Regions from separate parts of the Homo sapiens genome. Here regions 2, 3 and 4 are each linked to region 1. Evidence: fine-mapped expression QTL. A gene starts in region 1. Each other region holds a variant in brackets. All regions are shown on one strand. Distances are between the middles of the regions. Region 1 holds the start of CPPED1 (calcineurin like phosphoesterase domain containing 1). Region 2 overlaps CPPED1 (calcineurin like phosphoesterase domain containing 1). Region 3 overlaps CPPED1 (calcineurin like phosphoesterase domain containing 1). Region 4 overlaps CPPED1 (calcineurin like phosphoesterase domain containing 1).

Region 1 (2,687 bases):
ATACAACCAGTAAGTGGGTAGAACCGGGATTAATCCAAGCCCACTGACTCCAGGACTCATAGGCATTTATACTCTTAACCACTATGATTCATGGGTGACTCTTGTCAAGGATTAGAGAACAGTAGTTATGGCCATATTAGCTACTCAAACAGTGCTTTGGATGTAGGCAGCTAGTTTAGAAAAGAATTTCCCAAATTTGTAAGATCATAAGAGCTCCCCTGCAGTGCTTGTTAAAAACAGATCATTTTCAGGCCAGGCACTGTGGCTCATGCCTGTAATCCTAGCACTCTAGGAGGCCCGGGTGGGTGGATTGCTTGAGCTCAGGAGTTCCAGATCAGCCTGGGCAACATAGTCAAACTCGTCTCTACTAAAAATACAAAGTATTAGCCAGGCATGGTGGCGCACGCCAATAGTGCCAGCCACTTAGGAGGCTGAGGTGGGAGAATCACCTGAGCCCAGGAGATCGAGACTGCAGAGATTGTGCCACTGCACTCCAGCCTAGGCAACCAGAGTGAGACCCTGTCTCAAAACAACAACAACAACAACAAAACACAGATCATTTTCATAGAGATTTGGATTCAATAGGTCCATTCTGGAATTTGTATTTTCAACACGTTTGACAAATGCTGGCTAAGTAGTTCACTACAATGGCTCTTGAGTTGAAGAGACACTAATTTGGTTACTCGCAGCTTTACTACCTCTCTAGATGTGTGTCACCTTGTGCAAGTTCGTTCATCTCTCTGAGCGTCAGTTTCCCCAAATGACGGATGCAGCTAATAACAGCACCACCTCCTAGGGCTGTAGTGGGGATTAAGTGAGCAGCGTGCAAAGTGCTTAGCGCCCTGCCTGGTGCATAGCAAGCAAAGATAATAACAGAAAGATGGTGGCAGCCACTGGGAAGTTCAGGCTGAGACAGTCTTCCAAGACGTCCACCTTTTCATCTTTTTTTTTTTTTTTTTTGTATTGGCAAGGTCTCTCGCCGTGTTGCCCAGGCTGGTCTCCAACACCTGGACTCAAGCGATCCTCCCTCCTTGGCCTCCCAAAGAGCTGGGGTTACAGGCGTAAGCCACCCCAGTGGCTCCTTCTGACTTTATGATAGAGTTGTCAGATAAAAAAAAATCAGGACGCTTCCATTCAAACCTGCAAAAAGAGAAAAATTTAAAAAAATTAGGACGCCCAGTTCAATTGGAATTTCAGATAATGAAAAAAAAATTTAACGTAAGTAGCTCCCAAATACTGCATAGGACATATTTATACCAAGTCAGTCATTCTTTAAAAAAAAAAATCTGAAATTCCAATTTAACCGGGAGTCCTGCATTTTTACTTGTTAAATCTAGTAACTCTGCCTTTAGGGAAGGACTGACCCCAAAGCCTTATCCCCGCCCACGCGTGCCCTAGACAGTCTCCACTCGCCAGGCGCGCAGGTCGATCCCAGAGGGGCCGCTGGCGCCTCCGCTCCGCCCAGGCAGCACTAGTGGCGCCCCGAGCCACCGGGCCCCTCCCCGTCCCGCCCCAGTCCCGCCCCGAGATCAAAGGGCGTCGCCCAAAGCGGGACAGGTCCAGCGGTTGTTCTGTGTGAAGTCGCGCGGCTTCCACCCACGCAGTGTTCTAAGTGAAGGCCAGAAACTCGCTCGCCATGTCGGCTGCAGAGGCGGGGGGTGTTTTCCACAGAGCCAGGGGCAGGACCCTGGCCGCGTTTCCCGCAGGTACTGCCCGCCCCTCACCCGGGGAGGGGACTCTGGGGCTGCGGAACCTTCCGCCGGGGGAACCTTTTGTTCAGGTGTGCGCTCCGCCAGTCGGACACCATCCGGGGCTGCACCGGGGCCTGGGAGCCGCCATAGCTGCATCAAAGCCTGCTCTTAGGGATTCCAGGGGCGCAGTTGAGAGGCGAGGCCGAGAGAGCGATCTGGTCTAGGAGCCTCCTTGGCCTTGACCTAACTTCCCCCAGAGAAGGGAAGTAAGAGGAGGGTAGCAAAGCATAGTTAATGACAGCTTGGACTCTGCAGCGAGACCTGGTTTCCAAGCTGTGCATTAGCATCTTGGCCTCAGCTTCCACATCTGTGAAACGGGAATACTTGTGGGTGTTACTGGATAAGCGTTCGGTGCATGTTAGAGGGTGTCGGTTTTATTAAGGTTGTTCACCGTTATGTATTCTGTACTCCATAATGACGTTTATTTAAGTCATTCACCGAAATGGTAACACTGCCCCATCAGAGCAGTAGAGAGGGAGGGCATTCGAGAGTCGTAGTGAAGTGCTTGGATTTTGGATTTAGATTATCTGCTTTGCCTTAAAAATGGGTTTGATAATACCTGCCTCATAGGGTTGTTGGAAGCGTAAACAGATCAAAAGTATTTTTGTAACCCGGTGTTGGACGCATGCTAGGTGCTAAGTAAAGAGGGAGGTTTGTTTCTGGTTTGTTGATTCCCCTCTGTGGCTTTTTGCTGCCTGCAGCCAGATCGCCTCCCAGGCTCTCACCAGCTTTATACCCCCAGGGAAGTCACCCTAAATGCCCTATATGATCAGGCTTGTGTCCACTTCCTTCAGGGTTGTCATTCTCTCTCTTGCCCAGTTCTGCAACAGGTTTTGTTGTTGCCCTTGTTTGAACTGCATTTAAAAGGGCCAAGGCCGTTCTTTCCCTGAGGGTCTTGGCGCTTGCTGTTTTCTGCTTCTTTAGCAGGGTTGGTGA
Region 2 (2,687 bases), 110 kb after region 1:
TATTTTCTGTCTTCATTTCACCTGCGTGAGGATAATCAATTTCATCACATCCAAGGGATGTAGAAATTGGTTTTCCGCTTTATTCACCTGATACCTAGTTGGAGTAGCAAAGACAGATAGTAGATAATGAAATTTTGGTTGAACCTAGACATTTTCTCGGTCCTTTATGCCTCTTTCAGCAGAGGGTTAATATATGACCCATTTAATATTGATTCCAATTTAGAAGCTCAGTCTTAAAAAACAAAAGCTAGATCTTTAACTGACCATGTTTCCCTTGATGTCTCGATACCTTTTCTTTTTTTCCATTCTCCGAAGAGAGATTAGAACTGTGTGTTAGAGAGCCCAGAGCAAATTTGGCAATTATGAAAAATTCCAATAAGTTGATCTTCCCCGCAAAAGTTAATGAGTCATTTCACAGAATTAGAGTTTCATTTCTAGTATTTATGCTTTTTTAGAAAATGAGAGAGAGAGAAGATAAATCTTAGTCCATGGTTATAGTTTTAAGATTTCAAAGTTTTGGCAGGTGCAGTGGCTCACACCTGTAATCCCGGCACTTTGGGAGGCCGAGGTGGGTGGATCACTTGAAGTCAGGAATTCAAGACCAGCCTGGGCAACATGGTGAAACTCCATCTCTACTAAAATATAGAAATTAGCCGGGCATGGTGGCAGGCACCTGTAGTCCCAGCTACTTGGGAGGCTGAGGCAGAAGAATCGCTTGAACCCTGGAGGCGGAGGTTGCGGTGAGCCAAGATTACGCCACTGCATGCCAATCTGGGCAACAGAGCAAGACTGTGTCTCAAAAATAAATAAAAAAAATTCAAAGTTTTAAAGAACAAAAAGATCAGGTTCCCAGGATTTACTTTATAGGAAGATAAAACATCAAATCCTGCTCTGACATCCTTTGCGCTGTATTGCAGTCACTGTTTAGATCCTGATTCCTCCAGGAAACAGAAGCCCAGCCTTATTCACCTCTGTAAGGCCAGCCCCTAGCTGAGACTGTCATATAGTAGCCCCCCAATAGGTGAATAGTGGTCAATGGAATTGAATTAAGCGTGATTCAAGTCTACTTATCAGCAGGTAATATCCGTATCACTTGTGAGTTGGTTTTCATGAACTGACTTTTTTTTGGTGGGGGTTGGGGTC[A/G]GAGTCTCACTCTGTCACCCAGGCTGGAGTGCAGTGGTGCCATCTTGACTCACTGCAACTTCCGCCTCCCAGGTTCAAGCAATTCTCCTGACTCAGCCTCCCAAGTAGCTGGGATTACAGGCACACGCCACCACATCTGGCTAATTTTTGTATTTTTAGAAGAGATAGTTTCACTGTATTGGCCAGGCTGGTCGCAAACTCCTGACCTCAAGTGATCCGCTCACCTTGGCCTCCCAAAGTGCTAAGATTACAGGCATGAGCCACTGCACCCAGGCCACAAGCTGACTTTTGTATGGGAAATGCTTCGCCTAGAGGGGTCAATAGAACTTTTCGGTAAAGGGTCAGATAGTAAATATTTTGGGCTTTGTGGCTCTATGGTCTCTGTAGCAACTACTCAACTCTGCCTTCATAACAAGAGAGCAGCCACAGACAGTGCAGTGTTCCAATAAAACTTTATTTCCAGAAACAGGTGGTAGGCCTGCCGGTGATAATTTTCCAACTCTTGGCTTAGAGAAATGTTCCCATTACAGGGTGACGCTCTTGCTCTCCCCAGAACCTTGTCCACATTCTGTATGTGTCTAAGTTTAGGATGCATCTGACGACCCCATTGTAACAACTGCCTGACTGACAGAAAGGTCTGCCCAGAACAAGCCTCCTGAAGGTCTTCAGTGGAGGGCGTGCCTGGGTGAGGCACATGTTCCCCTGAAGACCAGGATGTGATGGATTGCAGACAAGAGGGTCCATGGTGCATGTAAGATGTCTAATAATTGGGTGATCAGCTTCACATGTATTAGAAAAAAATAGAACTAGCTTATCAATTTAAAGAAAATGATTTAATTATCACCTGAGCTCAGGAGTTCGAGACCAGCCTGGCCAACATGGAGAAACCCCATCTCTACTAAAAATACAAAAATTAGCCAAGCGTGATGGCACACACTTGTAGTCCTAGCTACTTGGGAGGCTAAGGCAGGACATTGGCTTGAACCTGGGAGGCAGAGGTTACAGTGAGCTGAGATTGCGCCACTGCACTCCAATCTGGGCAACAGAGCAAGATTCTGACTCAAAAAATAAAAAATAAAAATAAAGAAAATGATTCAGTAAATAGTAGTATGAGTACTGTGCAGATAAGGCAAAACTTGGAGGTTTGTACAGGGGGAATTAGCGTCTGGGCCGGTGGGCAGGGGGTCCTATAACATGGCAGGTGAACAGACAGGATTTGGCTTCTTAAGTTGCTTGGGATAAGCCACTAAACATTTCTCTGCCTTAGTTTTCCCACTTGTAAAAAGAGGGTACTCACCCCAACCTTGTCAAGTTGGTGTATCCCTTAAGGAGAGTCATATATAAAATCAAAAAGACAAGTCAGGCCAGGCGCAGCGGCTCACACCTGTAATCCCAGCACTTTGGCAGGCTGAGGCAGGTGGATCACCTGAGGTCAGGAGTTCGAGACCAGCCTGGCCAACATGGTGAAACCCCATCTCTACTAAAAATACAAAAAATTAGTGGAGCGTGGTGGTGAGTGCCTGTAATCCCAGCTACTCAGGAGG
Region 3 (2,687 bases), 140 kb after region 1:
CTTCACCACTTCGCAATATATCCGTGTAACAAAACTGCACTTGTACGCCTTATATTTATACAAATTTAATTTTTTAAAAGGGAAGAGAGAATCATATTAATTTCTCACCACTTTTTAAGTAAGCAAACAGCAGTATTTCCCAGAGGCAAGAGGTTCAGCAAGAAGTCAGGAAATGTTTTTGTAGATAAGCATCTATCATTCTGATGGGCCATGACTAGTGTGTTCACTTGTAATTCCTTTGCCTTTAAAAAAAGAGAATGATATCAAAAAATAAGTGCCTTATACTGTGAAAAACGATAAAAGGACTTCCTGATTCTAAGTGCTATGGTTTTGAATGTTTATTATGTGTTTTAAGTGCTTTGGCTCAGAAAGGTGGGGGTCACGTGGCCAAGGTCGCCTAACTCATCTTGGTGGAGAAAGAACGGATGTAGATGGCCCAAGGCTTGAGTCCATGCTCCATAACACTGTCCTGTCTTGGAAAACGTTTCTCAGAGGTGAAAGGTTGCACCAGCTCAGCCAGTGGCAACACACTGAGTACGGTATTCAGCACCTTGGACAGCGTTAGCTGGAGGCCCAGGGATTTCCTCCCAGCTCTGCAAAGCCTAGACCAGACCCTGATTGCACCAGGTTCAGGGGGCAGAAGCTTGTCCAAAGAGCAGATGGTTCCAGGGGGAGGATTTTTACTGGGGGAGATTTAGAAACCGAACTGAACCATAATGAGTCACGGGACACAGCCCTGTCTGCAGCAGTAACTGTCCGCAGCTCTAGCTGCTCCATGTCTGGAGTTACCACCACAGGGTGTAGGAAACCACCAGCTGTCTCAAGGCAAGGAATGTCACCTAATGCTCCCCTTTCCAATTAATCACTTTAATTGGAGGAAAAAACAAAAACACAAGGACATGTTACGGGGGAAGGTTTTTTAAAGTGATCTCAAATTGGATTGCAAAGGCTCAAGTGACTTTGGGAATGGGGCTGGGGAGATGATCATTTACTTTTTACAATAAATAATTTTATCTCACATCTTTAGTCAAGTTTCTCCTAAGTTTGGGGAGAATGGGGAAAAAATGTAGTAAGCTTTATGGGACTAGCAACAGAACGTTTTATCCTATTTTGTGA[T/C]TTTCAGTATTAAGAGATTATTGATCACTTGCAGAGTTACAAGGCAAGCACTAGTTTAAATCTGAATTAGACTAGGGCCATTGACCTTATATACCTGTAAAAGACACTACGGTGTATACAACTGTAGAAACAATATACACATAGTAGTTTAATATTACAGTCTGTATTCCAATGCAGAATCTTTTGAGAAAAGGTTGCCAAAACATCATTTGCATTTACTTGAACCCTTTTTTAGACAGAATCTTGCTCTATCACCCAGGCTGGAGTGCAGTGGTGTGATCACAGCTCACTGCAGCCTTGAACTCTTGGGCTCAACCAACCTTCCCACCTCAGCCTCCCAAATTAGCTGGGACTATAGGCTCGTGTCACCACATCTAATTTTTTATTTTTATATTTGTGGAGTTGAAGGTCTTGCTCTGTTACCCAGGCTGGTCTTGAACTCCTGGCCCCAAGCAGTCCTTCCACCTTGGCCTCCCAAAGTGTTGGGATTACAGGCGTTGGCCACTGTACCCAGCCTTACTTGAACTCTTAATACTTATTCCCAAGTGGTACCTAAAATGGTTTTGTGCAGTCACAATATTAGGTAGCAATATTATATTGAGCTGGAGGAAAAAGAAGATTTAGGAGTAAATTGCCAAGGCAAGTTCTGTTAAAAGCTTTCTGTAATAGACATCAGGGATTTTTTTTATTCAGGTAACCTCAACAGTTTTGATTGCACATGTAACATAGTACTTGACAGGTAATACTGATTTTTATAACTTCATAAAATATTCTCAAGCCATGGAGGAGCTCTTATGTATTTTTTAATGAGTACACACACACACACACACACACACACACACACACACATATAGTAAAAGTGGAGGATTCTTTTCTTGGAATAATGATTTCTAGCATTTATCTAGAAAAGATTTTGCTGACTAAATTTTCCTTTTCCTCCAGTGGATTTTTAAACATCAGTGCATGCACATAAATACAGATTGGATTTTTCCTTTAGGCTTTATCTATGTAAATGAAGTCGATTAAATGTGAATAATCATGTTACCCTTCATTATTCTGACCATTATGTTTGAGAAGTAGATTTCTTCACTAAAGGGGCTTTGCAGCACACTTAGAATGAGTGAGCCACTGTGCCTCTCTAGAAACTGGCTTCTTGTCATCATTTCAACATCCACTCAAACGCTCACCCCTGAAAGTGGCCTTCCTGCTTGATATGGTTTGGCTCTGTGTCTCCACCCAAATTGGTTTGGCTCTGTGTCCCCACTGAAATCTCATCTCGAATTGTAATCCCCATAATCCCCATGTGTCAAGGGACGGACCTGGTGGGAGGTAATTGGATCATGGAGGCAGTTTCTCCCATGCTATTCTTGTGATAGTGAGTTCTCATGACACTGATGGTTTTGTGTTTGATAGCTCCTTCACACTCTTTCTTTCCTGTTGCCATGTAAGACATGCCTGCTTCCCCTTCCACCAGGATTGTAAGTTTCCTGAGGCCTCCCCAGCCATGCGGAACTGTGAGTCTATTAAATCTCTTTTCTTTGTAAATTACCCAGTCTCAGGCAGTTCTTTAT
Region 4 (2,687 bases), 110 kb after region 1:
AGCGTGTGATGTTCCCCTTCCTGTGTCCATGTGTTCTCACTGTTCAATTCCCACCTATGAGTGAGAACATGCGGTGTTTGGTCTTTTGTCCTTGCGATAGTTTGCTGAGAATGATGGGTTCCAGCTTCATCCGTGTCCTACAAAGGACATGAACTCATCATTTTTTATGGCTGCATAGTATTCCATGCTGTATATGTGCCACATTTTCTTAATCCAGTCTATGATTGTTGGACATTTGGGTTGGTTCCAAGTCTTTGCTATTGTGAATAATGCCGCAATAAACATATGTGTGCATGTGTCTTTATAGCAGCATGTTTTATAATCCTTTGGGTATATACCCAGTAATGGGACGGCTGGGTCAAATTGTGTTTCTACTTCATGCCTTCAATCCTAGCTACTTGAGAGGCTGAGGCAGGAGAATCACTTGAACCCAGGAGGCAGAGGTTGCAGTGAGCCAAGATTACGCCACTAGCCTGGGTGACAGAGTGAGACTACGTCTCAAAAAAAGAAAGAAAGAAAACACACACAGGACACTATACTAGTAAAATAGTAATAATGACTGCTTAATAAATAGTACACCACAGGGACTCTTGCTCTGATTTTGTAGACAAGGAAACTGCAGCGTGGGGAGACAAATCGGCTTCCCCAGCATCAACCAGCTGCAAAGTGGTGGGTGACACTAATTGCTTGGGGCCTGGGCAGTGGCCCTGGGTCCTGTGTTCTCAACGACATTGCTGTTGGGTGCCCCAGAGCATGTTGATGAGCAGAATGCACCGTGGGCACGGGTGCTGATGGCAAGTAGAGAGGAGCCGGGATACCCGTGTGGGGCAGGGTCCCACCTGCTCACCCTCCTGCCCATTCTTCACCTGCTCCTCTACAGGGGCTGCCTCAGGAAAGGAGCTGGTGCTGCAACCACAGAGGCTCAGCACTGGGATATCCAAAGGGATCTGCCAAGTGAGGGTCCGTGGAGCCTACTTGGTGTGGAATACAGGGGTGTGGAATTCCCCTTTGGCCTCAACAAGCAGGAATTTTTCTTTCATAGTAAGCCTCTCCGTTCATCCGTTCATCTTGAGTATGTGAATTGTGCCTTCTGCAGACAAAGATGCTCTTGATGGTGTCTTTTTTTTTTTTTTTTTTTGGTAGAAACTAGATCTCACTGTTTCACTATTTTGCCCAAGCTGGTCTCGAACTCCTGAGCTCAAGCAATCCACCTACCTCGGCCTCCCAAAGTGCTTGGATTACAGGCATGAGCCACCACACCTGGCCTTTTTTTTTTCTTTCTTTCTTGAGAAGGAGTCTTGCGCTATTGCCCAGGCTGGAGTGCAGTGGCATGACCTCAGCTCACTGCAACCTCTGCCTCCTGGGTTCAAGTGATTCTCCTGCCTCAGCCTCCCAAATAGCCAGGACTATGGGTGCTCCCCACCACGCCTGGCTAATTTTTGTATTTTCAATAAAGACTGGGTTTCACCGTGTTGCCCAAGTTGGTCTGGAGAACTCCTGAGCTCAAGCAGTCTGCCTGCCTTGGCCTCCCAAAGTGCTGTGGTTATACGCATGAGCCACCACACTTGGCCTTCTTGATGGTGTCTTTCATGAAACAGGGAGGGATCTGTACCCACCCCCGCAGACTCTGGCCAGCCCCTCACCAGTTCAAGCCCAGGTGGGCTCATTATCTAAAGATTATGGCTGCCAAAAAAAAAGCTCACTTAAAATGCAGACCGTAGCT[A/G]CAGAAAATGGCAATAAAATAAAAATAAAGGTTGGTTTGAAACATTGTCTTGAGAAAAGAGACAAATTATGGCAATCAGTTAATTTCAACTTGTGTTTGATAAAATGGTTGTTACTGCCAGTATGCAGCAACTCAGGATGAACAGAGAGGTAATCAAGTGTCGACTTGGTTTCCTTGGAGTAAATGGTCTGAAAAAAATTCTTTTGACAGCATCCTGTACTTTACATTTGACATTGGCAGGAGCATCACTGTGGGTTCTTTTCAGATTTTATCAATCTTCATAAGAGTCTGTTTCTGAATCCATCAGTAATCTGATGATTGGCTTCTCAGGAGCTAATGTGGGCATGTATGTTTTCTCTGTGAGAGCCTTATTTGCCGATGACTTCCCCAGTGTCGTTTCCTTCGGCTTTGTGAAATCCTGCATCTTTAGTGTGGTTTGTGGTCTCACATACAGGTGCACTCTTGTTGCACAGCTTGGGGGATTGGGGGTGTGGGCTTGGTTTATAAGCAGTCCATTCATGAACAGTTTCTTGTTAAGAAGAAATACTGGCTGGGTGTGGTGGCTCTCACGTGTAATCCCAGTGATTTGGGAGGCCAAGGTGGGAGGATCAGTTGAGGCCAGGAGTTTGAGACCAGCCTGGGCAACATAGCAAGACCCCATCTCTACAAAATATACTTTTTTAATTAGCCAGGCATGGTGGTGTGCACCTGTGGTTCTAGCTACTTGGGAGGCTGAGGTGGGAGGATCTCTTGAGCCCATAAATTCGAGGTTGCAATGAGCCAAGATTGCACCACTGAACTCCAGTCTGGAGGACAGAGTGAGACCCTGTGTCTTTAAAAAAAAAAAAAAAAAAAAAAAAGCCCTCTTTTCATATAGCTGATCATATATGGGCATTTAGGAAGCATAAGATGATGTCATACAAAGCATTATCTCATGTCATTAAAAACCCAGACCACAGCTCAT

What was found. PIP is the estimated chance that this variant, and not a neighbour inherited with it, causes the effect. A credible set is the group of variants that fine-mapping cannot tell apart.
Region 2: its variant is the best candidate, but not a certain one, in a credible set for the expression of CPPED1 in spinal cord (GTEx, PIP 0.88).
Region 3: its variant is the best candidate, but not a certain one, in a credible set for the expression of CPPED1 in whole blood (TOPMed, PIP 0.87).
Region 4: its variant is the best candidate, but not a certain one, in a credible set for the expression of CPPED1 in whole blood (INTERVAL, PIP 0.52).

The regions. Positions count from the first base shown.
Region 1 is chr16:12,802,726-12,805,412 of GRCh38, reverse strand. It overlaps CPPED1 (calcineurin like phosphoesterase domain containing 1), which reads left to right and starts at 1,526. Exons shown (of 4, transcript NM_018340.3): 1 at 1,526-1,706. The coding sequence starts at 1,637. RefSeq lists a silencer at 1,445-1,494 and an enhancer at 1,575-1,944.
Region 2 is chr16:12,696,561-12,699,247 of GRCh38, reverse strand. All of the region lies in intron 3 of CPPED1 (calcineurin like phosphoesterase domain containing 1), which reads left to right. Among named protein-coding and RNA genes, the nearest start is that of MIR4718, 22 kb to the left of the region's middle. The variant A/G (reference allele first, on the strand shown) is at 1,144.
Region 3 is chr16:12,659,776-12,662,462 of GRCh38, reverse strand. It overlaps CPPED1 (calcineurin like phosphoesterase domain containing 1), which reads left to right. Exons shown (of 4, transcript NM_018340.3): 4 at 1-2,664. Among named protein-coding and RNA genes, the nearest start is that of SNX29-AS3, 50 kb to the right of the region's middle. The variant T/C (reference allele first, on the strand shown) is at 1,117.
Region 4 is chr16:12,689,114-12,691,800 of GRCh38, reverse strand. The region is part of intron 3 of CPPED1 (calcineurin like phosphoesterase domain containing 1); the gene reads left to right. Among named protein-coding and RNA genes, the nearest start is that of MIR4718, 30 kb to the left of the region's middle. The variant A/G (reference allele first, on the strand shown) is at 1,724.